Linked DNA regions of Homo sapiens: region 1 is linked to region 2. Evidence: fine-mapped expression QTL. A gene starts in region 2. The other region holds a variant in brackets. All regions are shown on one strand. Distances are from middle to middle. Region 1 has its middle 18 kb from the start of TMEM229B. Region 2 holds the start of TMEM229B (transmembrane protein 229B).

What was found.
Region 1: its variant is fine-mapped to the expression of TMEM229B in whole blood (TOPMed, PIP 0.97).

What each region holds. Positions count from the first base shown.
Region 1 is chr14:67,499,391-67,513,994 of GRCh38, forward strand. It overlaps a transcript of GPHN not described here and a transcript of TMEM229B not described here. Among named protein-coding and RNA genes, the nearest start is that of TMEM229B, 18 kb to the left of the region's middle. The variant C/T (reference allele first, on the strand shown) is at 9,561.
Region 2 is chr14:67,481,047-67,496,365 of GRCh38, forward strand. It overlaps TMEM229B (transmembrane protein 229B), which reads right to left and starts at 7,675. Exons shown (of 3, transcript NM_001348543.2): 1 at 7,462-7,675; 2 at 5,954-6,126. It also overlaps a transcript of GPHN not described here. RefSeq lists enhancers at 7,017-7,086, 7,250-7,749, 7,387-7,806, 10,356-10,896, 10,897-11,436.

The DNA.
Region 1 (14,604 bases), 18 kb after region 2:
GGAAATTTCATTTCCCTGATTAATTCAAATTACACTATATCTCAGCATTTTCCAGCATAGTGACAATAGGTAGAAGACCACAGGTTATCTCTACAGGCCAGGGAAATGATAAATGTTTCAATGTCTGGAGGCAAAGATGTGTTTAGATGAAGTCAAATAAATAGGTGCCAGGCTTGGTCTGTGGAATATCTTCCTTAATGGACAAGAAGATGAGTAAACAGTATGTAAGAGGATGCTTTAGTATATTTATGGAAAATGCTATATCGTGAGGAAGCATGGACAGGAATAGGGGCAGAGAAGTGATGATCCCAGAAGACCTCCAATAGGTTAAAAAGGCAGTGCCAGAAATACTTATGGCTCAGACTCTGAGAAGGGCTGGTTATTTAATGGTGGGGGAAAGGCAGCCTCAATTCCCACAGGCATGACCATCACTGCTAAACAGGGACAAAGGGTTAAAAAAAAAAAGTTATGCCCTTCAATTGACGGGATAGCTTATTCATCCTCCACCATCTGAAGACACCTGGGGGCTGCGGATTAAGGAGGGGAGTGGTCTCCTGGCCAGTGGAAGGTCCAGAAACAGGACTTTTTAGGCCTGGCTCTACCATTGATACTTGTAACTCCCAGTCATAGCTCCTCTACAGTTTTTGCATCAAAAAAGTGAATAAGGGTACAGAGTCTCTGCCCGTAGTCCCAGCTACTCACGTGGGAGGATACCTTGAGCTATGATCACACCACTGCACTCCAGCCTGGGCAACAGAGTGAGACCCTGTCTCTTAAAATAAATAAATAAATAGAAAACAATAGGCCATATGCGGTGGCTTATACCTGTAATCCCAGCACTTTGGGAGGCCGAGGTGGGTGGATCACGAGATCAGGAGTTCAAGACCAGCCTGGCCAACATGGTGAAACCTTGTCTCTACTAAAAATACAAAAATTAGCTGGGCATGGTGGCGGGCGCCTGTAATCCCAGCTACTCGGGAGGCTGAGACAGGAGAATCTCTTGAACCCGAGAGGCAGAGGTTGCAGGTGAGCTGAGCTCTCACCATTGCACTCCAATCAGGGCAACAAGAGTGACACTCCATCTCAAACAAAACAAAACAAAAACAAAAACACAATAGAACACTTTAGATTCCTTTATTGTGCGTTTCTGTGTTGCTTTTATGATTTTCCATGTGCATTTGGATTTTTTTTTTTTTTTTGAGATGGAGTCTCGCTCTGTCCCCCAGGCTGGAGTGCAGTGGCGCGATCTCGGCTCACTGCAACCTCCACCTCCCAGGTTCATGCCATTCTCCTGTCTCAGCTTCCCGAGTAGCTGAGACTACAGGCGCCCGCCACCACGCCCGGCTAATTTTTTGTATTTTTACTAGAGACGGGGTTTCACCGTGTTAGCCAGGATGGTCTCGATCTCCTGAACTTGTGATCCGCCCGCCTCGGCCTTCCAAAGTGCTAGGATTACAGGCATGAGCCACCGCGCCTGGCCTGGATATTTTTTAAAGTTTTAAAACATCCAGTCAAAGCAGCTATAAGAATTAATCGCAAATTGACTCAAATGAGTAGCTGCATCATCTTCCAGATGAAAGTAGAAGAACAAGGTTCATTTGGGATCCAAAGAAACATCCAGGTATAGAAAATGCCTCCAGGTATACTTGGGGGTTAATAATAATAATAATAATAATAATAATAATAATAATAATAAAGAAAATGCCTCTAGGAGCCAGCTGCTCTGCATGAGCTAACTTGGCCTAGGGGCAACAGGTCCCAACTAGCTTGAACGAAATGCAAACCTCCAGCAGGTACTCCCTGCCCTGAGGACACATCAGTTCATCCCAGAGTCATGGCAGTGGAGTTAGGAGAAACGGAGGGATTGTCTCACAGGCTAGAACTAGGGTGAGACAAGACATGCACTCAGCTCAGACACAAAATTTAAGGGAGTGCCAAAATATTTAGTAATCAAGATAAACGATACCTTATTATTTTTATTTATTTATTTTTGAGACAGGATCTTGCTCTGTTGGCCAGGCTGGAGTGCAGTGGCATGATCATAGGTCACTGCAGCCTCGACCTCCTGGGCTCAAGTGATCCTCCCACATCAGCCTCCCAAAGTGCTGGGATTACAGGCATGAACTGCTGCACCCAGCCAAGATAAATGATATTTTAAAAAATCAAGTTGGTAAGCCATGGCCACAGGCTATAGTTATATTGGAGCCAGGGCTGAGATTAGGGACAGGCCAATGAGGCAGGGTCCCAGGTGAGGTTCTGTTATGTTTGAAGAGCCCAAAGACCTGTCCTGCTCCAGTGCCAAAGGCATCTCTGTTGAGGAAGGTCGTATAGCACCAAAGTCCCCTATCTAAGAGCCTTGGAATTCAGAATTCTAAAGATTTTTTAAAAGGTAATGTAGAGCACATATCATAAATTACATAATCCTCACAGCAGGGTCTGGGGCAGCACCCACTAATCAAGCACATTCACGTTTCTATGGTGACATCTACGAATATTCATACTGTGCAATGTGAGCCTCTGTTAGACCAAGTCAGATTCTTCTGTCACTTGAGTGAAAGAAAATCTTTTGGTTTTATAGTGCTTCAGATTTCAAAATTGCAGATAAAGGACTGTGGGCCTTAATAGCATGACGTTAGGTCTCCTAAAGAAAAAAGGCAACAGACTGGGCACTGTGGCTCACACTTGTAATACCAACACTTTGGGAGGCCAAGGTGGGTGGATCACCTGAGGTCGGGAGTTTGAGACCAACCTGACCAACATGGAGAAACCCTGTCTACTAAAAATACAAAAATTAGCTGGGTATGGTGGCATGCGCCTGTAGTCCCAGCTACTCGGGAGGCTGAGGCAGGAGAATCACTTGAACCTGGGAGGTGGAGGTTGCAGTGAGCCGAGATCGTGCCATTGTACTCCAGCCTGGGCAACAGAGTGAGACTCCATCTCAAAAAAAAGAAAAGAAAGAAAAAAAAAGAAAAAAATGCAACAGATAGGACCCAAACTTTTGTTATAAACTTGTGCTGAAAAAAGAACTGCAAAGTCCTTGCTGGTGATCACCCAGAAGGTGATTTCTTTTTTTTTTTTTTGAGACTGAGTTTTGCTTTGTTGTCCAGGCTAGAGTGCAATGGCATGATCTCAGCTCACTGCAACCTCCGCCTCCGAGATTCAAGCAATTCTCCTGCCTTAGCCTCCTGAGTAGCTGGGATTACAGCCATGTGCCACCACGCCTGGCTAATTTTGTACTTTTAGTAGAGACGGCATTCCTCCATGTTGGTCAGGCTGGTCTCAAACTCCCGACCTCAGGTGATCCACCCACCATGGCCTCCCAAAGTGCTGGGATTATAGGCGTGAGCCACCGCGCCGGGCCCCAGAAGGTGATTTCTAAAGGTCAGTCAAGGCCAAAGCAGAGTGACCACAGGGCTTATTTCCCAGCAGCCAACCAACCAACTTTATTAAATACTTTCTGTGTGTAAAACCTTGTACAGGGTCCTGAAATGTATTAAGATTTACAAAACAAAGTTCCAGCCTTTGGGAGCTTAAAAATTAGTGGAGACAATATGGTAAGCAAAACAACCATGGAATATTAAAAACTGAAGGGATATCATCCGGACACACACTTTAAAGATGAAACCAATGTTCAGGGAAGTTGAGAGCCTTGCGTAAGTTAGCAGACAAGCAGATAACCGCACGCTAACAAGCAGATAGTGGCGCTGCACGGAGAGATCAGGATCTGTGTTTGCCAACTGTTGTTCACTGTCCTTTGCATAAAAGCACATAATAATTGTGACCTGGTGACAAAATGACAAGAGGAGTTAAAAGATCCTAACAGAAGTGGTTTTGGTTAAACAAACTTGCAGCAGAGATGGTCTCTGGCTTCTAAAAGGACTACAGTTTGGGTAGGCAGCAAGGCAGGTGAGTGCCCTTCAGGCAGTGGAACAACTGAAGCAGGGGTGGGCGTGTGTATGCCAGATTAGTTGTGCAAGTGGATTAGGCTCTAGGAAAGGGCATAGAAGGATTTCCTGGGGGCGCTGGGGAGATACGTTTGGAAAAGCGTGTAAAGGCTATGGAGAGCTTGAATGACAGGGCAAAGGACGTCAATTACCTCCTAAGGCAGCATTTCCCATCCCTGCATGCCACCTTCATGACTCGGCATGGCTGCCCACTGCCCTGCGGGAAATGACAGAGGGTAGCAGTTTAAAAGTCCACACTCTGGAGTCAGATTCTTTCCATTCAAATCCCAGCTTTGACACCAATTATGTGACTTGGACATGCTGCTTCACCTCTCTGCCTCAGCTTACTTTTTTTAAATTATTTTTATTTTTTATTTATTTATTTTTGAGACAGAGTCTAGCTCTGTCACCCAGGCTGGAGTACAGTCGTGCGATCTCAGCTCACTGCAACCTCCACCTCCTGGGTTCAAGCAATTCTCCTGCCTCAGCCTCCCGAGTAGCTGGGATTACAGGTGCTCACCACCATGCCTGGTTAATTTTTGTATTTTTAGTAGAGACAGGGTTTCACCATGTTGGCCAGGCTGGTCTTGAACTCCTGACCTCGTGATCTGCCTGCCTCAGCTTCCCAAAGTGCTGGGATTACAGGCGTGAGCCACTGTGCCCAGCCTATTTTTTAATTTTTATTTTTATTATTTTTGAGACAGGATCTCGCTCTGTCACCCAGGCTGGAGTGCAGTCGTGCGATCTCGGCTCACTGCAGCCTCTGCCTCCTGGGTTCAAGCGATTCTCCTGCCTCAACCTCCTGAGTAGCTGGGATTACAGGCGCCCACCACCATGCCCAGATAATTTTTGTATTTTTAGTAGAGATGAGGTTTCACTGTGTTGGCCAGGTTGGTCTCGGACTTCTGACCTCAAGTGATGCGCTTACCTCAGCCTCCCAAAGTGCTGGGGTTGCAGGCGTGAGCCACCGTGCCCAGGCTCAGTTTGTTTGTAAAATAGAGAAAATATAAGTACGTTCCTCATGAGGATTAAGTGAGAAAGCATGTTTACTGTACTACAAACAGCAACCTGGCATTATAAGCTACCAATAAATGTCAGTTGTTGTCACTAACCTTTTCATTTAAGTCAGTTTTTTTTTCAGTTATATATGTACTGTAGCCTTGTTCTAAGCAATAATATCCACAAAATCATGGGCTTATTGTGACAATGATGGTTTTGATGATACACATATAACAAGATGTTAAATCAAAAAAATAAATAAAAAACAATAGGCCATGTGCGGTGGCTCACACCTGTAATCCCAGCACTTTGGGAGGCCGAGGTGGGTGGATCACGAGGTCAGGAGTTCAAGACCAGCCTGGCCAACTTGGTGAAACCCTGTCTCTACTAAAAATACAAAAATTATCTGGGCGTGGTGGCGGGTGCCCATAATCCCAGCTACTCGGGAGTCTGAGGCAGGAGAATCTCTTGAACTTGAGAGGCAGAGGTTGCAGGTGAGCTGAGATCTCACCATTGCACTCCAATCAGGGCAACAAGAGCGACACTCCGTCTCAAACAAAACAAAACAAAAACAAAAACAAAAACACAATAGAACACTTTAGATTCCTTTATTGTGCATTGCTGTGTTGCTTTTATGATTTCCCAAGTGCGTTTGGATATTTTTTAAAGTTTTAAAACATCCAGTCAAAGCAGCTATAGGAATTAATCAGCAAATTGACTCAAATGAGTAGCTGCATCACTTTCCAGATGAACACCAAGGTGCACCAAGATGCAACAGGTATAATGCTCGTAAGTGTGACACCAAAGAAGGATGCGCATTTTCAAAAGAGGTGCGCAAGGGCCCCTCTCTCAAGCTGAGGGTATAGAGGGTCAGAATGGGCAGAGACTGGGGAAAAATCTTTGTGGAGGAATTTTGGGGTTGCTGTTAGTGTGCTGTGATATCTCACCCTGTCCCCATAGAAAACTGGCCCTCCTGTCAAGCTGGTGAGAGGGGAATTCACCAGGACCACTCAGGAAACTTGATGTCTGTCCCCTGCAACTGGGAGGACATGGTGGACTGGCATCTGATCACCTCTTGAGACATCCAAAGGGTGGGACACACGTTGGCCATCTGCTGTTGGAGGAGCCAAGGGAGACTGCTGAGCTGGGGTCAGCCTGCCTTCCCAGGTTCACTGTGCCCAGGGATGTGTGATTGTTTCCTTGAACTAATGTGGGCCACATGCACTAATGTGGGCTGGCATGAGGTCAGAGCAGGTCTTCTCTGAGATGGTCTCTTGGGCAGACTGAAGGACCTTAGCTGAAAGAGGCTAGAGGTGAACCACTGGATTTCAGGGGCTGAGGAAGGAGCAATGATCTAGAATAGAGGATAATTTGCTCTTTTTTTTTTTTTTTAAACAGATTCTTGCTCTGTTGCCCAGGCTGGTATGCAGTGGTGCGATCTCAGCTCACTGCAACCTCTGCCTCCAGGGTTCAAGCAATTCTCCTGCATCAGCCTCCCTGGGATTACAGGCGCCCGCCACCATGCCTATCTAATTTTTGTATTTTTAGTAGCGACAGGGTTTCCACCATGTTGGCCAGGCTGGTCTCGAACTCCTGACCTTGGGTATCCGTCCATCTCAGCCTCCCAAAGTGTTGGGATTACAGGTGTGAGCCACCTCACCTGGCTGATAATTTGTTCTTTTCAAGACAATAGAAGTGAGACATCCCAGCAATTGGGAGGGTAAGGAGAGTTCTCTGAGAATCCGATAAAAATATGGACCAGGAAGCTGGAAGCCAGCAGAGTGTACCCAGTGAGCACTTTCCTGCCCCTCCCAGTCCAGTGACAAAGGAGTGGATGTATTTTTATTTTATTTTATTTTTTAGTTTTTTCCATGGGACTCTGCTTCATAAAGCGGGTGTATTTTGTACCTAGTTGAGACTATGCTTGTAAGACTTAAAGTGATCACAGAACCGTCTCCTATGAATAACCAGAAAAGTTACAGGGCCTAAGTTTTCACCCTAGACCAGGGAAAGAACTAATCCCACTGGATAAACATAAAGAGACAGTGGGAGGCAAAATTAAGTTGCTTGATGAGTACATTCCAATGAGTCATGTTTCTTTACACTCATTAGAAACATAGCTATTAAAATGAAATGTTTGTCCTTGTACCAAATGAAATCATCTCTCATCCCCCCAGTAGCATGGTACCCCCCATAAAAATAATGGGGATAGGGGAATAAGAGGTGAGGAAAATGTAAGACAGGTAGGGATGGAAAATATTGGTTTGGTGGGTTCAGTGGGAACTCATTTGCTCCTCAACCTTGAATATGATGAAATGAAAATAGAAGGAATGAAAGAATCCAAGGGTCCTTAGAAAATGGCTTTGTTTGGGCCAGGAGTGGTGGCTCATGCCTGTAATCCCAACACTTTGGGAGGCCAAGGCAGGCAGATCATGAAGTAAAGAGATCGAGACCATCCTGGCCAACGTGGTGAAACTCCATCTCTACTAAAAATACAAAACTTAGCTGGGGGTGGTGGCATGCACCTGTAGTCCCAGCTACTCAGGAGGCTGAGGCAGGAGAATGGCTTGAACACAGGAGGCAAAGGTTGCAGTGAGCTGAGATCGTGCCACTGCATTCCAGCCTGGCGACAGGGCCAGATTCCATCTAAAAACAAAAAAGGAAAGAAAGAAAAAGAAAAAGCCTTGTTCAAAGGGAACTGAAGATAGCCTAGCCATAGCCCAATTCCATGAACAAAGAAGACGTGGTCCCTGAGTTCCTGGGCTGAGTATATGGTTTAGCCTTGCCCTTTCAGGTAGTTAGGGCAACAGAGGGGGTTATACTCTCGCTAACACTGAGTTGCCCAGAAAGCACCAGCTAAATTAGCCAGGTGCTAATATAGGTGGTGCAACTACAGTCCTAGCTACTTGGGAGGCTGAAGTGGGAGGATTGCTTGAACCCAGGAGTTCAAGGCTACAGTGAGCTATGATTATGCCACTGCACTCCAGCCTGGGTGACAGAACAACATCCTGTCTCTAAAATAAACAAAAACAAAAACAAAAAAACATCAACCAGAGACCTCAAGTTCTGGAGACCCAAGTGGCAGAGGAGCAGGGATAGGGGGAAGAATCCTGGACTGAAGCAGACCCTGGAGTCCCCAGGGTCTCGGTCTTTTGTCCAAGCTGGAGTGCAGTGGTGTGGTCACAGCTCATTGCAGCCTCGACCTCCCAGGCTTAAGTGATCCTCCCACCTCAGCCTCCCAAGGAACTGGGAGTACAGACATGCGCCACCATGTCCAACTAATTTTGTGTAAAGACAAGGTCTCACTGTGTTGCCTAGGCTAGTCTTGAACTGGCAAGTGATTCTCCTGTTTCCATCTCCCAAAGTGCTAGGATTACAGGTGTGAGCCACCCTGCCTGGCTCAGTTTAAGTTTTAAGACAAGACATAAAGGTTGCTCCCCATGACATAGGAATGGTGAGTATAAGGGTGTACAGACACCACCTCTCAGCTGCCCCACTGAAGCGGTTAAAAGAGCAATGACTGGGCTGGGCATGTTGGCTCACGCCTGTAGTCCCAGCACTTTGGGAGGCTGAGGCCGGCAGTTCACCTGAGGTTGGGAGTTCCAGACCAGCCTGACCAACATGGAGAAACCCTGTCTCTACTAAAAATACAAAATTAGCCGGACGTGGGGGCGCATGCCTCTAATCCCAGCTACTCGGGAGGCTGAGGCAGGAGAATTGCTTGAACCCGGGAGGTGGAGTTTGCTGTGAGCCGAAGTCACATTGCACTCCAGCCTGGGCAGCAAGAGCTAAACTCCATCTCAAAAAAAAAAAAAAGAGCAATGACTGGTCCTAGTCCCCCTTCTTGAGAAGGGACTTCCTCCAGCTCTGACTTTGTTCCTTAGCTTCCAGTTTGACTTCTTTCTCCTTCAACACCATCTCTTCCCTCCCAACTCTGACTTCTGACAGTTCCAGACCAGCTGAGTTATTTCCTGAAAAAGGCTGGAACCTCAGCCTTTCTCAGGAAAGGCTGGATCATCTAGCATTATTACCTGAAGAGAGGTTAGAGAATATCTTGTCCAAATGATAAGAAAACTAAAAGCCAAAAAACTTGCATCACACGCCCAGAGTCACTGAGCTGTGAGGAGAACCCAAGTCTCCTGACCCCTTGCACACTGTTCCATCATACAGCCTCACGCTAGCTCTCCAAGAGGGGTCAGCTCACCTTCCTTGGACCACCACCTTAACCCTCATTCCTCTTCCATGAATACTTCAAAATGGTGGAAGAGGCCAGGTGTAGTTCTGCACCTGTAGTCCCAGCTACTTGGAAGGCTGAGGCTAGAGGATCCCTTGAGCCCAGGAGATAGAGGGATAGAGGCTTCATTGAGCTGGGATTGTGCCACTGCACTCCAGCCTGGGTGACAGAGCAAAACCTTGTCTCAAAAAAAAAAAAAAAAAACAGAAGACAATTAACTTGCTTGGAACAAACAAGAATGGATCCCAATCTACTAGCTGGTCACCTTTGAATGGAGAAATCAGTGGCTATAAATATTTTCTCAGAAGAACAGAATAATCTCATGTTTGCTGTACTTTGCTCAGTGTAGCTGGGACCCCAGAGTCATAATCAGGTCTCCACAG[C/T]TGAATTATAATGATGGGCAGGGAAAGGCCCAGAAACTAGGTTGGAGGATGAGGATTGGGGTCAAGAATCTGCAAAGATAAGCTTCTATGACTAGTGGCAGTAGGACAACAGAAATAAAAATGTTGCCCAAACAGACCGTTAAGCAAGAGGAAAATTTTGGTTTCAAAATGAAATGGGGTTTATGAGATGTATTCCTATGCCAAGCAGAAAGCGTGTTCCCTTTACAGTAACTCCCAGGCCATCTGGTCTACTTCCCTACTGCAGGGTACAGACCTCTCCTTACTGAACATTCATTGAGATGATGTTTTTCAAACAAGAATCTGTACTTCTGTCTCCTTTTAACTAGTTGTGTTTAATCCACATCAACTCTCTCTTTTTTTTTTTGAGACGGAGTTTCACTCTTGTTGTCCAAGCTGGAGTGCAATGGCATGATCTCTGCTCACTGCAACCTCCACCTCCCAGGTTCAAGCGATTCTCCTGCCTCAGCCTCCCAAGTAGCTGGGACTACAGGCACGAGCCGCCATGCACAGCTAATTTTTGTGTTTTTAGTAGAGATGGGGTTTCACCATGTTGCTCAGGCTGGTCTTGAACTCCTGACCTCAGGTGATCCACCCACCTCGGCCTCCTAAAGTGCTGGGATTACAGGCATGAGCCACCGCACCTGGTCAATTCTCCTTTTTATGTGTTAACCTATACTGCCTCCACTTTTACCCTCTCCCCAACATTTGGTCTATTATCTGATCCAAGCTTATAAAACACAATAGATTCAGACTGGCTGGGAGATGTGGCTTATCCCTGTAATCCCAGCACTTTGGGAGGCTGAGGCAGGAGGATTGCTTGAGGCCAGGAGTTTGAGACCAGCCTGTGCAACATAGCGAGTTATAAAGACTCTGTCTCCATATAAACAATTTTAAAAGTAGCTAGGTATGGTGGCACATGCCTGTAGTCCTAGGGAGGCTGAGGCAGGAGGATCACTTGAACCCAGGAGTTCAAGGCTGCAGTGAGCTATGATTGTGCCACTGCACTAAAGCCTGAGCAACAGAGAGAGAACCCGTCTCTAAAAAAATTTTTTTATTAAAAAAAAAAAGAATCAGATAGATCTCAATTCAAATCCCAGTTTAGACACTTACTAGCTGTATGATATGGGTGATCACTTTATCTTGCAGAGCCTCAGTGTTTCCAGCTGTGAGATGGGGATAATTAATAGTAGCTATCTCATTGATATGAGAAAAGAACATATGTAAATGCTTAGCCTAATAAATGGTGATTGTCATTATTATTGCCATGATCACTGAAGCCAGCTGAAGCTCTATTTGTGGAATTAAGTCTCAGAGGGCTGAAATGGGCTGTCCAAGGTCACACAAGTGAGTGAGTCAGGGAGGGATCCCAGATTTCCTGATTCCTGAAGCCTTTGCCAACCATCAGCTCACACACAGACGAATCATTGCCCAATGACCTAGAAATCGGGGTATCTGATCACATCCAAGTACCACAGCTGGTGATTTAATAAGCACTCACCATGTGTTAGAAACTGTGCAGGCTATATGAAAGCTTTATAGCATCTATAGGTCAGTATAAGAAGGTCATCTCATTGCTTATGCCAAACTAAAAGAAAAAGAAAAAGAAAACAAGACAAAAATCTGGAACCGCTGCTTGTGTTGCCCAGTGGTAATGATATTTCTTGTCCATGTGTGTTTTAAGAAAGTAGATGAAAGTAAGACCAATGCTCTGGCTGCCTTATTCCTGGCTTTGAACAGGCCTTTTTGATTGGGAACAAGGGGAAGAGAGATACTAAGGACTTAGGGACTAAAATGGGGTTTGGCCAAGGACAGCAATGAAAAAGGAGATGGGGGTTGTCAGTGGGCTAAAAACAAGTCCCTGTCGGTGCTCTGAAGAATGGCAGTTATTGTCAGCAAGGTGGGCTTCTCGCTGCACCAGGGCCTGTCCCTCCACTGACTGTGCAAGCAATGAAACCATGGAGCCCCAGGAAGCACATTTTATCTTGAAGCATGAATCACCCCTCAGAAGTCTAGAAAAGAATCCTCTCTTTGTGGCCCTTCAATCTCCTTGGCTGGCATCCCTAGCTCCTCAGGGCTGATGTCAAGGCCTTACTAAAACTCAGGGTGAGTGACCTTTCCAATGGAAACGGATCATTCCAGAAGCTCATGTGACAGGGGTGCCTCTTAATAACTGAAAGGAAACAATGAATGAATGGGCCAGCTAGATGGCATTCGTCATTCAAGTCTAACTGCAAAAGCAGTCAGAAGTGGATAATCCAGTATGTTCTGAATGAGGGGCTTTTGGAAAGCAAAGGAATGGCAGAAAGTGATCTCTCCCCTCATCTTTTCATATTTATTAGCTCTCCCTACATTAATTGACAGCTGAAGTCTTATTTAAAAAAACAAAAAAACAAAAAAAACTGTCATGCTTCTAGAAGATGGAGCAGCCGGAAGGAGCAATCTGAGGACCCGAGACCTGTCCGTGTAGATGGTTTGCCCTCATTTCAAAGATGCTGTCTCTTCTATAATACCAGCCACACTGGGAGCCGAGAATCCCGAAAAAAATATTAAACTCCCTACTGGGAAGCCAGCAGAGTAAAGGATGGTGAAAAGCTGGATGTTCAAAAACATGAATTGTCAATGACTTTGGTTGTTCCTCAAATTGCCAGACTGGATTGTGATCCAAAGGTAAGTGGAAGCACCAAAATCAGAGGAGGGTGGAAAGTCGCCTTTCAGAACCATCCTTTGAAGGAGCAGGGGGCCAGCATCACTCTGTGACCTCCGCTCCACTACATTTATACATAGGGGAACTGATGTTAAAATGAGCATGAAGTATAGCCTCACAGGGGAGGAGAGCCGAAGGCCACACTGGGTATAAATGCAGCCTGATGAATGGGAAAACAGGGAAAGGAGCAAACCCTCTTTTCCATCTTGGAAATGTGATGGTTGACTTAGCCTCAGTTCTATCTGTGGATGTGTGTGTCGGGGTGAAAACCACTGCCTTTTCCTTGAATCACAGCAGCATGGGGCATCCCACAGCTCAAAGTCTGAGGCAAATATACGTCTTGAACCAAACACCCTGGTACTGATGTAAATTCTGGTACGTAAATTCTGAGTGCATCTTTATCTTATAGCAGAAAAGTATAACCTATGGATCTACTCGGGTACTTGATTTTAAATGCTCTTAAATCCCAGGAAAGGAAAATTTCCCCAACACATGCATTCTCACACACCACAGCCAGTGTGACAACTCTCAGTGGGACTCAGTTTCCCTAAGGGGAACCAAACCAAAAGTGCCCCCCTCCTACCCCTTCCCTAGAAATCAGCTTACACTTTACTTTTCAAATACAAAGCCTGATTTCTGAGAAGTGATGTAGAGTAAGAAGAAGATCTGGCCAATAGAGGCTGAAATTCCTCAGCTCAGAACATGAGAATCCTGTCTGATATTCCCTCCTTAGCCAGGTGTTGCCACAAAGGGAGCTAAGGCTTTGCCAGGTCAGAAATTATCCTTGCCTTAAAAGGAATGTTCCTGCAATTCAAAAATACACCCAGACCACCTTGTCTGTATATGGGAGGTAGGGAGATGGGGGAGGAGAAAAGTAAAAGCATACAAACTTGAAAACAGCCAGGCTCTGGGAGGGTTAGCTATCCCTTCCCTCCCCTCAAGGACAGCCAGATCTGATACAGTTGCCGATAAGACCAAGCTGCCTCACTCTACTGCCCTTACCCAGGTCTTTCCTTATGACATCAGAGTCCCCAACATCATCGGAGACCCTCCTCAGAAACTGGAAGGTGACAGTCACTAACATTCTAGCTGGAAACTGTACACCAGGAAAAAGCCCACCAGGAAGGAGCTCCAAGCCATCCTGGGAGGTAAGCAGAAAAAAAAGCTTGCTGCCTAAGTGCTGCAGCGAGAGCTTTTCTGATAAAAACTACACTTTTAAAACCAACACTGAGCTTTGCCTATCACAAAAGCTGTAATTTGGTCCCTTCCTGTAAAATGACACCTTTCCCTTTAGAAACAATATGTAAATCTGATACAACCGAAATAAACACAGTATAAGGCTCACTAACTCATTTAATATCTTTCATTCAAGGACTTGAGGGTCTTAAATCACTTTATAAATGTAAAAATTCATGCCTCATCACTTCAAAACAGGAAGTTAGGAGAGTATCAATTTCCCATCTTAAGGTCAGTACATTTGAGGAACATGCCACGGAAAAGCCCATCCTCTAACCACTGGAGGCTCGGAGGTCAGGCCTCCATATCATTATCCTCAGCTCCGAATAAATAGCTTGGGACAAACCAATAAAGCCGCTCCAGTGGGGAATTGAGTGAAATCAATCCTGCCTGCCTGTTAGAATGGGAAGGTCCATAGAAGTGGGCCTAGCTGTGCTTCTCTGGTGCAGTACCTGCATCTGACTTTAGCCACAAATTGCAGGGCCACAAATCTATAGCTCAGGGGACTCAGTTTTCTCCTGCTACTCCTTATTGGTCCTGGAACCTCCGTTGCTCCTGTACCTATAAGTGGCCAAAATCAACACTAAAAAAGCCTGTTGTCCCCACCCAACGCCTGCCATGCTGTGTCCCCAGTTGCCTGTATCTGTCTCCAAACACAAAGCCCCTGATGGGGGCTAAGTGTCATCTCAGCACACCCCTGAGCAAAGTGTCTCTAGAGCAAAGTGTCCTGACAGGCCCACCCTGGCCCAACCTACTTGTATCCTTGTATCATTAGGTCATTCACACAGGCAGGCGGGAGAGTCCTCCACCAGTCTAGGGCCCTCCAGTGCCTTCTGTCTCACAGGGAAGCAGATGTATCTGTCTTCCAAACAGGGAAAAAAATCTGAGCTCCCAAAGGGCTATCCTGCCACAGGATAGGAGCTGGTGGTCACATGTAAGCCAGCTCAGAACTGAAGGCACCTTGTTCCTGGAGACATAAGGCCAAGCACTGGGGACCTGGAACCTGGCCCATTTGTTTTCTAGAGAGAAAGACACTGTACCACCCCCAAGGCAGGTTGCTTGGCCCTCCCTTGATCCCTCTTC
Region 2 (15,319 bases):
TTTGGAGGCTGAGGTGGGAGAATAGCTTGAGGCCAGGAGTTCGAGACCAGCCTGGGCAACATAGCGAGACCACCATCTCTACAAAAAGAAAAAAAAGTAGGCTGGTTTGATGTGGTGTGCCTGTAGTCCCAGACGCTAAGGCAGGAGGATCCCTTGAGTTCAAGAGTTTGAGGCTACAGTGAGCTATGATTGTGCCACTGCACTCCAGCATGGACAATGAGCAAGACCCTGTCTCTTAAAAAAGAAAGAAAGAAAGAAAAACAAAAAAGCGAGATGGGGGAGAGAGAAATATGGTGTGCCCCAAGCCCAGATTCTGTTTCTGGGCAGCAGGAAGCCATGGGTAGTAGATGGAGGGGAAGCACACCACGGCAATGTCAGACAGTGTCCGAGGGCAGAACTAGGAGAACATAGCTGGTCCATGCAAGACCAACAGGGGAAATGAAAGACCTGAGTCAGGGCAGAAGATGGGGTTGAAGAGAAAGGAATAGGAGACAGTGTCATTGGCTGAGGTGGCAGCTCCCAGTGTGGTGGGGAAGATGATAATATTAGAGGCTGGGCATTGACTTGGATGCGTTTTCAGAACCCCACTCTCCAAACCCATTTCTAATCAGCACAGGAGCTGTGCTTAACTTTGAGCTAGGACAGGCTCGCCCACCCCATACAGGGCCTGACAGGCCTCTATTCCCTGCCCCGGCCTCCACCCACCCGACTCCCTATATCCTTAGGCTCCTTCCACTAGCTCCTTGCTCAGCCCTGGGATCAGAGCCCTGGGAAAGCCTGCTGCAGGGAGAACCGGCAGCTCAGGGGACCTTGGCTTCTTTCTCCTGGTGACAAACAAAACTGTCCTGAGACCTGTGACATGAAGATAGGACAGCCCAGGAACAGAAATTCAGGGTGGATTGAAGAGGAGGAGAGTGTGAGCAAGGTTGAATGCAGGAGGACAGAGTTTGGAGAGCAAAGGATAGCTTCACAAGCAGGGTTTCATTGAACAACATTCAAATCCGAGAGTCCTCATACCTGATGAAAGGGCCTGGGCAAACAGAGTCCCATCGAAGGGCCAGGACTCAAGGTGACTTGTGAGGTCTAGGAACTACCCCTTCAAGGGAACAGGTGATGGGGAAGGGGAAGGGGATCTGGCTTTCAGAGCCCTGTTCACTAAGAGCATCTCACCGGCTGCTCTCCGAGCCTGCTGTTCCACAGGGTGGCAGGGGACATGGCCAGCAGTTGAGAGGGGTAAAGAGGCTGCCATAAAAGTCTAAGACAGGCTGAAGGCAAAACCAGATGGAATAACTGCCCTTGGTTTTGTCAAAAACTCCCATCTTGTTTCAGGGGGCTAAGGTGCCACAACACAGTGACTCTGGGAATTTTTGTCCAGAGAAGCATCTGGCCAGAAAATTGGGATTCCCCTCCCATGCAACCGGGCTGGGAAGGCCTTCCGCTTTCACTCCACTCACTTCCCAAGCTTCACTCCCCATCCCCAGCCACCCCCATCACTACAGTTCCATGTTCTGGGGAGACCCACAGCCCTTCTAGGAGACCCCTGAGGCAACGCAGCGGGGGACAGCTTCAGGAGCCCTTGGGCGGCTCTGTGCTGAAGATAAGTGGCTTCAATGAGGAAAGGGCAGAAACCTCCCTGAACTTCCCCTGTTGTCATCAAGTTAGCAGGGAGGAAAATAGGGCTTGCCCAGGGCCAGAAGGGAAGCAAGTGGAGGGAAACTCCTGTAGCCACTGGCTGGTGCACATGCTGCAGACTTCCACCCTCTTGCTGTGGGTGCCCCCCAAGGAAAGCCCCTGGGATTAGTGATACTGCAGGCCTTGATGAAGTCCTCCCTCCACCTCCCAAGTCACAGTAATAATAATAACCAGGTGCTCTTCTCAGTATTTCCATGTATTAACTCAAAAAATTCTCAAGCCCATTTTACAGATGGGGAAAGTGAGGCAGAAAGAGGCTACGTTCTTTTTTTGTTTGTTTTTTGTTTTTTTAGATGGAGTCTCACTTTGTCACCCAGGCTGTAGTGCAGTGGTGTGAACTTGGCTCACTGCAACCTCTGTCGCCCGGGTTCAAGCAATTCTCATGCCTCAGCCTCCCAAGAGGCTGGGATTATAGGTTCCTGCCACCACACCCAGCTAATTTTTGTATTTTTAGTAAAGACGAGGTTTCACCATGTTGGCCAGGCTGGTCTTGAACTCCTGACCTCAAGTGATCTGCCTGCCTCGGCCTCCCAAAGTGCTGGGATTATAGGCACGAGTCACCACACCTGGCCGAGCCTACATTCTAATAACTATAAAAGGCAAGGCTGGGATTCAAACCCCACAAATCTGGTTCCAGAGTCTTTGCTCCTAATCAGCACACTGCACTGCCCCCGAGGCTGACTGCAGGCTCCTCTGAGGGCACTACCATTTTCTGAGTTCCTGCTTCTGGAAGGCTGGGATGGTATGTGGAGAGACAACAGGAAGCAAGGAGAAGGTTGTGAACTTCTAGGTGGTTCATTAACAAACTTCCCAACTGGGTGTCAGAGTTCCTAAAGGCTCCCAGCCTGTTCCTCGGGATCCACACAGAGGCCCTCCAGGGTCAAAGCTGACAGTCACAGGACCATGACAGCAACCAACCCTCAGGCCCCAAGGCATGCGCCATTCAAAGGCCCCTCACCAGGACACACACAACCCAGAGGCCCCCTGACTGCCAGCCCACACCAGTGCTCCTGGGAGTCTCAGATGGCCCGGCCCAGCCCTGCCATGGAGACACCAGCCAAGAGCAGGGGCCAGCTGCCCAGAGGAGCAACAGCCAGCATGTCAGGAGGAGCGGTCCGAACACAGAGGATTTCAGGGGGCCTCAGATCCCAAGCAAACCGCAGCAGGAGGCAGGGCAGGGTGAGTGGGCTTGGGGGATGGAGTCAGTTCTGGCACAGAGGTCCCTGGGGCTCAGAAAGCGAAGGATGCCCTGCACGGGGGACTGGCAGGCTGGCATCCCAGACCTGTATGTGGCTGCCTTGCTGTTACCATTCAGATCTCAGCTGAGCTGTCATATCTCAGGGACTTTTGATCCCCAGTCCAAAATAGCCTCTCTGTCACTCACATCATTCCATTTTATTTTCTACATAGCACTTTCACTTTCTGATATGTTGCTACTTATTTATGGTCTGTCTCTCCTCAACTAGAATGAAAACTTCATGAGAGCAGGGGCACTGTCTTGTTCACTGCTGTTTAGTCAGTGCCTAGAGTGGTGCCTGGCAATAATACCTAGTAATACTTGTGGAATGAATGGATGGATGAGTGGGCCCAAACAGGCCCAGGCCCTTAAACACTGATGAGGGCAGGTATAAACAGCTAGCTGCCTCGGTCTCTCTTCCCTCCTTTCTTGAGAAATATAGCCTTCTAAAACATTTAATTCTAGCATTTAATTTTTTTTCTAATTATAAAAGCAACATGTGCTCACAGCTGAAATTTAAACATTACAGAATGACATAGAAAGCAAAAGTTCCCTGTAATCACACATCTTAGAGAAAGTCACTATTAATGGTATGTTGTGTAGTCATCCGGATTCAATTTTATTTTTTAAAAAGCCAATCCATGCATCATAGAAGAAGCATTCATAGGCCGGGCATGGGGGCTCACACCTGTAATCCCAGCATTTTGGGAGGCTGAGGCGGGAGGACTGCTTGAGCCCAGGAGTTTGAGACCAGCCTGGGCAACATAGTGAGACCTCATTTCTAATAAAGAAAAAAAAAGAAAAAGCACTCATAATTCTGAACTAACAGCGATTACCATTTCTCCTTTGCAATATTTTCCTATGTGTGTATTTTACAAGTCACCATAATATACTTATTCTGCAACCTGCCATTTTTACTTGTCATAACTGTTTTTCCAAGTTGTTATATAGCCTCTGTGCTCATTATTATAATGGCTGTGTAATATTCCAGCAAGCGGAAAACTGTAATTTACTTAACCTAGATGTCCAAAGGGAACAGTTGTTTCCCATTTCTACTACTACAGATGATATAACGAGAATTACCTTTAATGCCTGTAATGGAAGAATTCAGCCCTTTTCTTCTCTGGTACTATTTCCTAATAATATATCTTAATGGATAATTCCAGAAGGAGAATCACTGAACCAAACGGTACAACAGCCTTAAGGCTGATGGCATAAATTGCTCTGGGGAGATGTGCCTCCCATCTGAGGAACGACGTTCCCACAGAGGCACCCATGGCCATCTCTTTACCCCCAACTCCCCTCCTACAGTCTAGGCTTGCTCACACCACCCTGGCTACAAATCAACTCAAGAACACACTTCCTGAGAAACTCTCCAGTCAAACTGACTTTGTAAGCCCAGGCTGAGTGGAAAACAGATTCTGGCCCTGAATTATAAACTGTCAACTAGGAGAGTCAAGATCTACCTAAAGTGGAAAAAGACCTGATTACCCCTTTTCTACTCCCTGCAAATTCCTGCATGGAATCTGAAGCTCTGGGTTCCCATGGACCAGCCTAGGAACTCCAAAAAAAGCTTGTCTGTTCAAGATTGCAAAAGCCCAGCTCTGCCTGCCATGCCTTCTGGGGAGCTTCCTTCCTGCAGGCCTCTGATCCCACCAGGCTACGGGCCCTGCACAGACATAACAGCCTTCAGGCCAGACAGGCCTCTGGGGGTTGGGAAAGCAGCCAATTGTCATTTTTTAAGGCATCATCAAGGAAAAGCCAGGGGCTGAGGCTGGAAAGAAAGGCCTGTGAGGACAGGCAGGGCTGTGCAGTTAGGAGCCTCTCACCCTACCTCGAGCTTGTCTCGCTGAGGAGGAGATGCTGCTGCTGATATGTGACAAAAGCAAGAGGACATGCTCCTCCAGATCCCCTGGTGGTCACTCTTATGGCAGCTAAGGCTCACAAATCCCCCCACCTCCCAGGGCCCTGGATGCCCTACTCCAGGCCTCCTAGACCAGCAGCACATGCATTGCTCATGGCTTCTGGGCAGAGTCCAGTCCCAGGTGATGCATGGTCCTCACTGCACAGATCTGAAGCCTGACGGCCAAAGTAGATGCTGTTTCCCAGGTGTGAGTGCTCGCTTCACTCACGCCAGACAATCTGAATGATATGGTTTGGCTGTGTCCTCACCCAAATCTCATCTTGAATTTCCACCATGTTGTGGGAGGAACTGGGTGGGAGGTAATTGAATCATGGGGCCAGGTCTTTCTCATGCTGTTCTTGTGATAGTGAATAAATCTCATGAGATCTGATGGGTTTTTGTTTTGTTTTGTTTTGAGACAGAGTCTTGCTCTGTTGCCAGGCTGGGGTGCAATGGCACGATCTTGGCTCACTGCAACCTCTGCCTCCCAGGTTCAAGCGATTCTCCTGCCTCAGCCTCCTGAATAGCTGGGACCACAGGTGCATGCCACAATGCCCAGCTAATTTTTGTATTTTTAGTACAGATGGGGTTTCACCATGTTGGCCAGGATGGTCTCAATCTGTTGACCTTGCGATCCACCCACCTCGGCCTCCCAAAGTGCTGGGATTACAGGCGTGAGCCACAGTGCCCGGCTGATCTGATGGTTTTATAAGGGAGAGTTTCCCTGCACAAGCTCTCTTTCTGCTTGCTACCAACCTTGTAATATGTGACTTGCTTCCCCTTGCCTTCCACCATGATTGTGAGGCTTCCCCAGACACGTGGAATTAACCCTCTTTTTCTGTATACATTTTCCACTCTTACGTATGTCTTTATCAGCAGCACGAAAACAAACTAATACACTGGGTCTGGCCTGGATTTTAGAGGCCATGTGGCCATAAGACGGCTCCCGCATGTGATGGCCCAATATTGCTTGACATTCCCCTCCCATTGCCCTGTGACAGGACCTTGGATGGGGAACAGACTCAGAACTAGAACCTCCAGACTCGTGCCCATGCTGATGAGGTGCCGAGCAGGCAGGATCGCTGGGCTGGTGATCCCCTGGGTGCTTGTAACATACTCACTTATCACACCCTTGAGTGTGCAGCTCACAACAGACATCAGGATCACTGTCCAGGAGTGTCCTGGGTTAACCTTTGTTGGCTGGGCCTCAGTGCCATTCTCAGCAACGTAGGCAAGCATCAGCCCTAGGGCTCAGCTGATCCTTGGCTGGGGGGCTGGCAGCTTCCATGTGTCCCTGGGAATAAAAGAGGAGGCTTTTATTAGCTTAAACTGCCCCCAGCAGATCCAAGAAAAACATTGCAAGGGCCTGGGCTCTGGGCTCAGCACCAGACACTCATCCCACCCTGGCCACCAGGGCCCCTTCCCGGAACCTACCCCCTCCTCTTTGCATCCAGTTTGCTCAGGTCTGATTAATCCAGCCACAAAAGTCTGGGATGGTCCTGGACAATCCACATGTCCAGGGTTAGGACTTAGGGCTTCTTGCCTAAATGTGTGAACACTTGTGAATCTGAGAGGGGATATAATTTTAGAATCCAGCTCCATTCTCATTCAGCTTCAAATTACATTCTCACCTTCACCCTGTAGTGGGTACATCTGTTCTCAAGGGCGGTCAGAACCTCATGGAAGGCAGACAATGTAGGACATTCGTTTCAGCACTTTGAAAGCAGAGAACAACCACTCGTGCAGAAAAACAAAATGTGTGCTAAACCTTTCTACGTACTATTCTACCTCTCTAATATTTATTCATCTCATTTTATTATTTCACCATTATTATGGTTGAGGCCCTTCCTATGAACATCAGTAACCAGCTACAAGCTAATACAAATCTTACTTTATAATGCCCTTTGCCATGTACTTTAAAAAAAAAAATCAAGTAGAGACGGGTCTTGCTATGTTGACCAGGCTGGTCTCAAGCTCTTGGCCAACCCTCCCACCTCAGCCTCCCAAAGTGCTAGGATTATAGGCGTGAGCCACTGTGCCTGGCCAGCCATGTACAGCCATGTTTTTACTACTATCCCTAAGACTTGACTATTTAATGGAGATTCCAACATTTTTTGTTTTAATATGAAAGTGCTAAAGCTTCCCTGAAAACCCCCTGGATACAACACCATCTGCATATGCCCAAGGACAGCACTCAGGCCCAGCATGGCCCTCTGGGACAGCCCAGCCACTCAGAAGCTGAGAACAGTATGTGGCTGGGGGTGGGAGCTGGCACTCCCCTGTGGATGACCAGGCAGGATGGACCAGAGGTGCTGGTCTGTGCTGATGCCCATGTCCACCTTCCCCACTCCCCTCTGACCACCAGGGTCTCTGAGTAGAGGCCGCTTGGGCCCTTGCTCAAGCTGACAACCTGTGAGGCAGCCAGGCAGCCGAGGAGAAGTGAAAGGGCAGGAGTGGGGGAACTGAAACTCACTGTATGGTGTGGTTTTGGGGGGTGCCCCCCTGGGTCTCCCCCCGGGGCCTCTGCACTGAGAGCATCACAGTGGGCTGCTGTGCTCAGCCTTGCCTCCCCCTCCCCAGCTCCTTCACAAACGGGACCCTCCAACCCTCCCTGATCTGTCCATCTTACCGGCTTCTTCCAGCCTGCCGGATGGCGGACAGGGGTCACCTTGACACGTACCTATCACCTTGAGGAAAAGGTTTTAACGGAGCATGTCCGAACCCTCTGGGACTCTCTCTCCACCAGCACCACAAGGACCATGTGCCTGGGGAGTTCAATCCCACCTGTGGAGACTTCTCCCCACCCTAGGCCCTCAGCCACATCCACGGCACAAGTCAGAACTAAAACAGAAACAGAAACCAAAGACCACATCCTGCCGGCACAGCCTGCGGGTTACTGCAGCCAGCTCTGGGAGCCCACTGCCTGCTGAGGTGCAGCCCTGGCAGATGAAGCCCCAGCACTCAGAAAGGCTCCTTTTGAGGGCAGTGTCCCACCAGACACCTCCCACTTCCTGGTCTGCAGGCTTTTTCCCCAGGAAAAACTTAGTTGCAGGGAGGATGAGATGATGGTGCACCTCTCCCTCCAAGTGCATAAGCTGTCCCTAGGCCTCACTGACACTCCCTATCCCCCAAGAGTAGATCCCAGGGGACAGGGGACATGAGGCTCCTTTGAGGACTGCAGGACCTGAACCAGAGTTTCTTGGAACATATGAATGAATGATGAGCCCTTATAGCAACTAACATATGGATGGAACTTAGATCATCTCTCATGATTTTCTCAGGCTCCTGAGGGGCAGGAAGGGCAGAAATGGTCACCTCTATTTTAGAAATGAAAACACAGAGGGTTCAGGACATTAAGAGATTTGGCCAAATCCAAACATTTGATTCAAATCCCAGTCCTCAGCCTCCAGAATCACCCTGTCCCCATACAATGTGCCTTCGAACTGCTTCCCACCCAAATCTCATCCTTAAGGCACATGTCTGCATGCAAGGGTCTTCAAGTCAGTGTAAACTACTTAGTCCATTCCAAGTAAGCTGCTTATTTTGCAAACTTATAGCTGAGTTTGTCCATGCAGCTTCTGGTCAATATGCCTGAGACGCTGCTGGGAGCGTGAAGAAGCAGAGACCACCGGCCTGTTTCAAGCACTGTCATCTCTCCTGCCCTCCTCTGCAGCCACCATTCTGACTCCTTCTTCCAGACCCTGCTCCCTCCTCACTCCTTTGCGATGCCGTCCCACAACCTCCAGGTCATTCCATCACTGATGTTCCCAGGGGGATCTGACCATCCTTCAACTGAAACATGTCATCCCATCTTAAAATTCTTTCTATGTAGCCGGGCGCGGTGGCTCACGCCTGTAATCCCAGCACATTGGGAGGCCGAGGCGGGCGGATCACGAGGTCAGGAGATCGAGACCATCCTGGCTAACATGGTGAAACCCCATCTCTACTAAAAGCACAAAAAATTAGCCAGGTGTGATGGTGGGCACCTGTAGTCCCAGCTACTTGGGAGGCTGAGGCAGGAGAATGGCGTGAACCTGGGAGGCAGAGCTTGCAGTGATCTGAGACCACGCCACTGCACTCCAGCCTGGGCGACAGAGCGAGACTCCGTCTCAAAAAAAAAAAAAAAATTCTGTCTATGTGTCTGTTTCCCCCACCACGCTATGAATTTCTTGAGATCATAAAATTTCTGCTGGATGGATGGACAGGCAAGGTGGAGAAGGGCCCAGCTGCATTTAAATTCTTGGGCGACTGAAACATCCAATGTTACTAATCAAACATAGCAATGTCTTGTGTTTTTCTCTAATTTATAGGCCACCATCACAGATGAGCCATACATGTTGGTTTACTAAAGGCAAGGCTGTCTCTGCAGGTGAAGGAAGCAAGGAGTGTGCTCACTCTCCTTTCTCCCATCTCCAGGAGCCATTGCACCACCAGAGAATGAAGAGAGGCAGAGTGGGCGGCCTGGGTTTGCACAATACAGAAGGCATGTCCAACATCACGCAAGGAAGACTGGGGCAGGAACAGACTGTTCCAGGCATCAGGGGAGATACTGCAGCCTCCTATGTGGGCAAGGGGCCAAGCGCAGGTTCAGGTCAGAGAATAACAACTCCTGTTCTGTTATTTCTACAATGTGCTGGCACTCTCAAAAGCCACATCAGTTTTCATGCACATAGGATTCACTTCCCAAAGAGGCTACTGGCAGGAAATTCCCTTCGCACCATTTTCTCTCCTTTCCTATAACTATTTAAGGTAAGCTGGGCTTGCAGGATTGAGTCTCTGCTTCTCTGACCAGAACCTAAAAATCAGATCTCTCTCCCCGGCCCCTCATCATCTCCTTGGCCTGGAACCTAACACTGGAGCCAGAAAGCATGCAGGCAAATACTACCTCTGTTTTTTTACCCCCACTCTCCTTTTCCTTAACACTCCCCAAATCTCCCTGTAAAGGAAAAAAAGTTTTTTCCTTCTGCTCTCACACTCAAAGCAGAACACTTCTGTGACCAGATATGGGGTGGGCGTGGAGGGGGGCAGATATGCCCCCCATATCTGGTCACATTTCTCCAGCAGACACCAACTGGGTCTCCTACAGTTCATTTAAACTCTGATGCTATCTATCCTGAGATAGCAGCAGATCCCACATTCTGAGGGCTCAGTCCCACAAGACTGCCCCCACTTCAGATGCCAGTCACAAGTAGATCGTCACCTATACTTCTGAACAATTGGTTACAAACCAGGGTTCCCATGACCGCCTCCTTGGGTTCTATTAATTTGCTAGGATGGCTCACAGAACCCGGGGAAACACTTACCTTTACTGATTTATCACAAAGGGTGCAGATGAGCAACCAGATGCAGAGATGGATAGGGTGACGTATTGGGGGGTCACCCACCAGCACCGCCACATGTTCAGCCACCCAGAAACCTATCAAATCTTATTCAAGAGTTTTTATGTAGCTTGATCTCCACCCTCCCACACCTTTCTTGGAGGTTGGAGGGTGAGGCCAAATGTTCTAATCCTCTAAGCATTTGGTCTTTCTGGAGACTGGCTCCATCCTGAGGCTGTCTAGCCCCTCCACCACCCCACCACTTCCCCAGTAACTTCATTAGCATAAACTCAGGTGTTATCAAAGGTGCTTATTATGAATAACAAAAGACATTCCTTTCACTCAGGAAATTTCAAGGGTTTTAGGAGCTCTATGACAGGGACCCGGGACAAAGACCGAATACATTTCTTATTACACCGCACCCTGACCCAGGTGCCCACAAAGTAGAGAAGATGCCTAAAGGCCCACTGGGGAGCCCTCTGGTTACTCAAAGCCCCCAGTTCTTCTCACGTGACTCAGAACAACCACTTTTACTTATCCTAGAGTAAGAAAAGCCCTGAGCACAAATGGATCTGGTAACTTCCTACACCAAGGAGGGGCCAAGCTCAACTACAAAAGCAATCAGTATTCCAGATTCCCTGAGGGGAAAGCCTGTGTCTGTCCAGCTCCCCCAGGAAGCAAGGAGAGGCCCAGGCCGCGGGGGCCTGCCTGGCATGGGGAAGGTGCATGGAGATGGGAGCCAGGCCCCAACCCCACGGGGCCCTGTCCTTCCCCTCTGTGCCCCTTGCTCTGAGCTTGGAAGCTGCATTGCCCCACCTGCCTGACATCTCACCCCACTGTCTTCTGTCTCACTTGGAGGCCACCTGTCCTTTCCCTCTCCTCTCCCCCTTCCTCCTCCCCATCTAGCCCACTCTATCTCACATGCCCCTCTCAAAGTCCCCCACTGAGCAAACCCTGACCACCCAACTCCATCGCCTTGGAGGGTGGTCTCTGGTCCCACGTCTATTTCCTCCCATTCCCACCCCCGGCAATCAGTAGCTGCTGCTTGCTGCCTGAAAGGCTGGACAGCTGCTGGGCTCTCTAATTAGCTGCCTGGCCGCCGTCCCAGAGTGAGGCATGTGTTACTGTAAAGAGCTGCCTCACCTTGCCTTCATCAATAATCCCCTATGCAGATCCCATCAGGCAGCGGCTGAGAGGCCCTAGAATACTCTGCACATGAGACCAGCAAGCCTTCTCCTGTCAGTCAGAAAAAAGAGGCAGTGGCCTCACAGCCTCACTGGCAAAGTGACCAGGATTTTATCTGGGTTCTTCCCACTACTGCCCATGTCCTTAGGGTGTCCTGGAGGTTACCCTGCCACGCTGCACCTTCAGAAGTGATGGGGACCCTGCCCCTTTGTTGCCTCACCAGGGAGGCAGAAAGAAGCCCAGCAGGGCTTTCAGAAGACAAGCCTGGACCGCTCTTATGGTGTGACAACAGGACTCCGCTTTTCACAGCCTGTACAGCCAAGCCACCTAGAGATTTCTAAACAACAAGGGAACTTAGTCCAAGAAGTCCTGTGGTAGCTGGTTTATTTATTCAAGGTGTTATATTCCAGCAGTCAACAAATATTTACTGAGACCCAGTGAAGGCCAGGTACTGTACCATGTGTGAACAAGACAATGTTCCTGCCCCCTTGGAGCTCACAGGCAGGTGGGAGATCAGCAATAACTAAGCAGCTCTAAACATACTATAAGTTTTAATATTATGCCATGAAGATGGGGAAGGCCAGGTGGGGGAAATAAAGAAACCCGATGCTGGAAGGTGAGTCTTAAATGTTAAGGAGGTAGCATTTGGGCATAGGTTAGAAAGATGAGAAGAAGCCGTGCAAAGAACTTTGGGAAAAGCATTCCAGGCAGAGAGGACAGTTAGTGAAGAGACCCTGAAGTAGGAGAAAGTTAGACAAGTTTGAGAAACAGCAAGGCCAGAGTAGCTGGTGTTAGGCACAGTTTATCTTCAAAGGTTTCAGTTCCTTGTTCTTTGTTCTATTCTGAAAGTAATCTTACCCATCCATCTATCAGCCCTCCCTATCTCTGTTGCACCCAAACACGCCCAAGCATATGCCATCACCTGTGTACTTGTCTTTCCCGCCAAGTGCCCACCCTTGCCTCCTTTGATGATGTCAACAGTAGCCAATCGGAATTAGTTTAGATTGTGCGGTCCAACCCCAGCCAACACAGGGAGGACACAGGAACAGGGTCTGTGTTAGGGATAAAAACCCCTGCTCTCCTTTGTTCAGTGTGCTCTCGTGATCGTAACTGACACAGGCCGCACCCTTCTGCAGGAGTAAATTGCCTTGCTGAGAAAACTTTTTCTGCCTGAGTGCTGGTTTCACTTTGCGACACCAAGCTTTATTTCCAACACTGAGGGTCAGTGTGCTTTGGATGCTGTCAATACCCTGCCTGTTGGGGTGAGCATCAGGCCCCAGCCTGGCCAATCACAGCACCACATTCCCCTGGTTCTGTGATTGGTTCAGGGATGGATACATGCTCCAATCAGAGCCAATCCTGAGATTCTTGTTGGAATGGCCACAGAGACCACAAAAGAGGCATCCTTTTCTTTTTTGTTTTGGACTTGGAGCTATAAGGATGTCAGTCTGAAATTGACAGGGTAAGGCCAGGGGCAGTGGCTCACACATGTAATAAACTTATTTATTTATTTAAAAATAATTTTTTTTTAATTGAAGGATGAGAGTTGTTCTGGGGAATCTGTGACAGTTGCTGTCTGCTCTCCATCTGAACCAATCGGTACTGTTCCTTTCCTTAAGTAACAGTCCACAGGAAAGACCACCATGCACTCAGCTGGACACTGACCCCAGCCACACCAGGCACCTCCACCATAAGCCTTAAGCCCAACAACCCCTGCCCTTCACTCAGCCCCTTACTGGACAGCTCCATCTACTGAGAAAGCACCCAGTCTTGCTAATGCTTAAAATATGGCGCCAAACAGCACTTAGGCAAGAGTAATTAAAGGGAATGTTATCTCAGTCAGTCTCTCATTAACCATGTAATTAGACTGCTGAAAATAATTAACATTCCTTTTGACAAAGGATAAGAGGACCCATTACATTCATTAGGACAGCCTCAAACCAGCCTGAGAAAGGCCGAGAAGAGAATTTAGAAATGAGACCCAAAGAGGTTATGCAGCTTTCTCAAGGTCACAGTGCTAGTAAGGGCAGGGCTAGGATTTGAAGCCAGGCAGTGTGCCTGTGGGTTCTGTGCTCTATCAGAGAAGCAGCTGTGGGGGCTACAAGGTTTCAGCCAGCAAATCCAGGCACAGGAAGGGCCCTGAATTGGTGGTTATTGAATCTGGAGCAGCCAGGCCAATCGGCCCCGCCCCCACACACCATGCTTATACTCTGGACACGGGTTGAGAGGTAGGGGATGCCTAGACCAGCTCTTGTCAGTGCTCAGCAGGTACATCCCACCCTCCTGTCCACAGCCGGTGATGGCTGGCTGTGGTGCACAGAATCAGCATTCACAGAGAGGTGACCTGAAGACCCCAAGATCCAACAGAGGAACACAGAACGAAGGCTCGCCCAACATTTGACAAGAACCAAGGCTACAGAAGAAGCACCAAATTTTAAAAACAGAAGTGGCCAGATGCAGTGATTCAGGCCTGTAATCCCAGCGCTTTGAGAGGCTGAGGTGGGAAGATTGCTTGAAGTTAGGAGTTTGAGACCAGTCTGGGCAACATAGTGAGACTTTGTCTCTACATAAAAATTTAAAATTAAATAAAGCAAATGGGGCAAAATGTTAATCACAGGTGAATCTGGGTAAAGAGTATATGAGTGTTTTGTACTGTTCTGGCAACTTTTCTGTACATTTGAAATTATTTCTAAATAAAAAGTTTGGAGGCAAAAACATCAGGGACCCTCTTATTAGGACAGGGGGTGGGGCCCAGGAACAGACATGGAGGCAAATCCAGGGAGAACCACACTGGTCATCAGAGGTCTCCACTGGGCACAAAAATTCCAGCTCTGGGGTTTCCGCCTGCCAAATCCCTCCTGGAAACATTTCCTCTTCCAATTTGGCCCTCCTTTTTCTTGCTTCTCCATTGATTTACTCCCACCTCCTCCTCCCAGGATCAACAACCTTGCAGAAGGCATCCATCCTAATGCCAGAAGACGGGGTTAAACTTTGGAGTGTATCCGTATATGTAGTTAATATTTCCTGGAGATATTTTGACACCTGTTTTGTCCACAGCCCATAATAATGAGTCAGGTTACATTTGTTAAATCACAGCCTTCTGGATTTTTTTTTTTTTCAGATGGAGTTTCACTCTTGTTGCCCAGGCTGGAGTGCAATGGCACAATCTCAATTCAGTGCAACCTCCGCCTCCCAGATTCAAGCGATTCTCCTGCCTCAGCCTCCTGAGTAGCTGGGATTACAGGTGCCCCGCCACCATGCCCAGTTGATTTTTGTACTTTTAGTAGAGATGGGGTTTCACTGTGTTGGCCAGGCTGGTCTTGAACTCCTGACCTCAGGTGATCCACTCACCCCGGCCTCCCAAAGTGCTGGGATTACAGGCGTGAGCCACCATGCCCAGCCAGCCTTCTGGATTTTATATTTTATTTCCCCTAAAGTTACATGCTATTCCAAGTCACACTGCCTGACTTAGGCCTTGAGGCCATGTTCCTACCTTCTGATCTCTCAGGCAGGCTTTCTAGGGTAGGTGCCCCATTTCAACACCTCAGCACCATCACAGCCACCTAATTCCAAAGCAAAGCCCTCAGACACAGGCACAGCCTCCTCCTCAGGTTCACTGTCACAGCTGTGTGTGGCCATGTTAGATAACGCACAGCCAAACAGCTGAAAGAGTCTTTACCCACTGTAGTCCCAGCTATTCAGGACACTGAGGTGGGAGGATTGCTTGAGCCCAGGAGGGCAAAGCTGCAGTGAGCTGAGATGGTGCCACTGTACTCCAGCCTGGGTGACAGAGTGTGACCCTATGTCTTATTATTATTTTTAAAAATTTTGTATCTATTTATTTATTTATTTTGAGACCAGGTTATGAGACTGGCTAATTTTTGTATTTTTGGTAGAAACAGGGTTTTGTCATGTTGCCCAGGCTGGTCTCAAATTCCTGGGCTCAAGTGATCCACCCATCTTGGCCTCCCAAAGTGCTGGGAT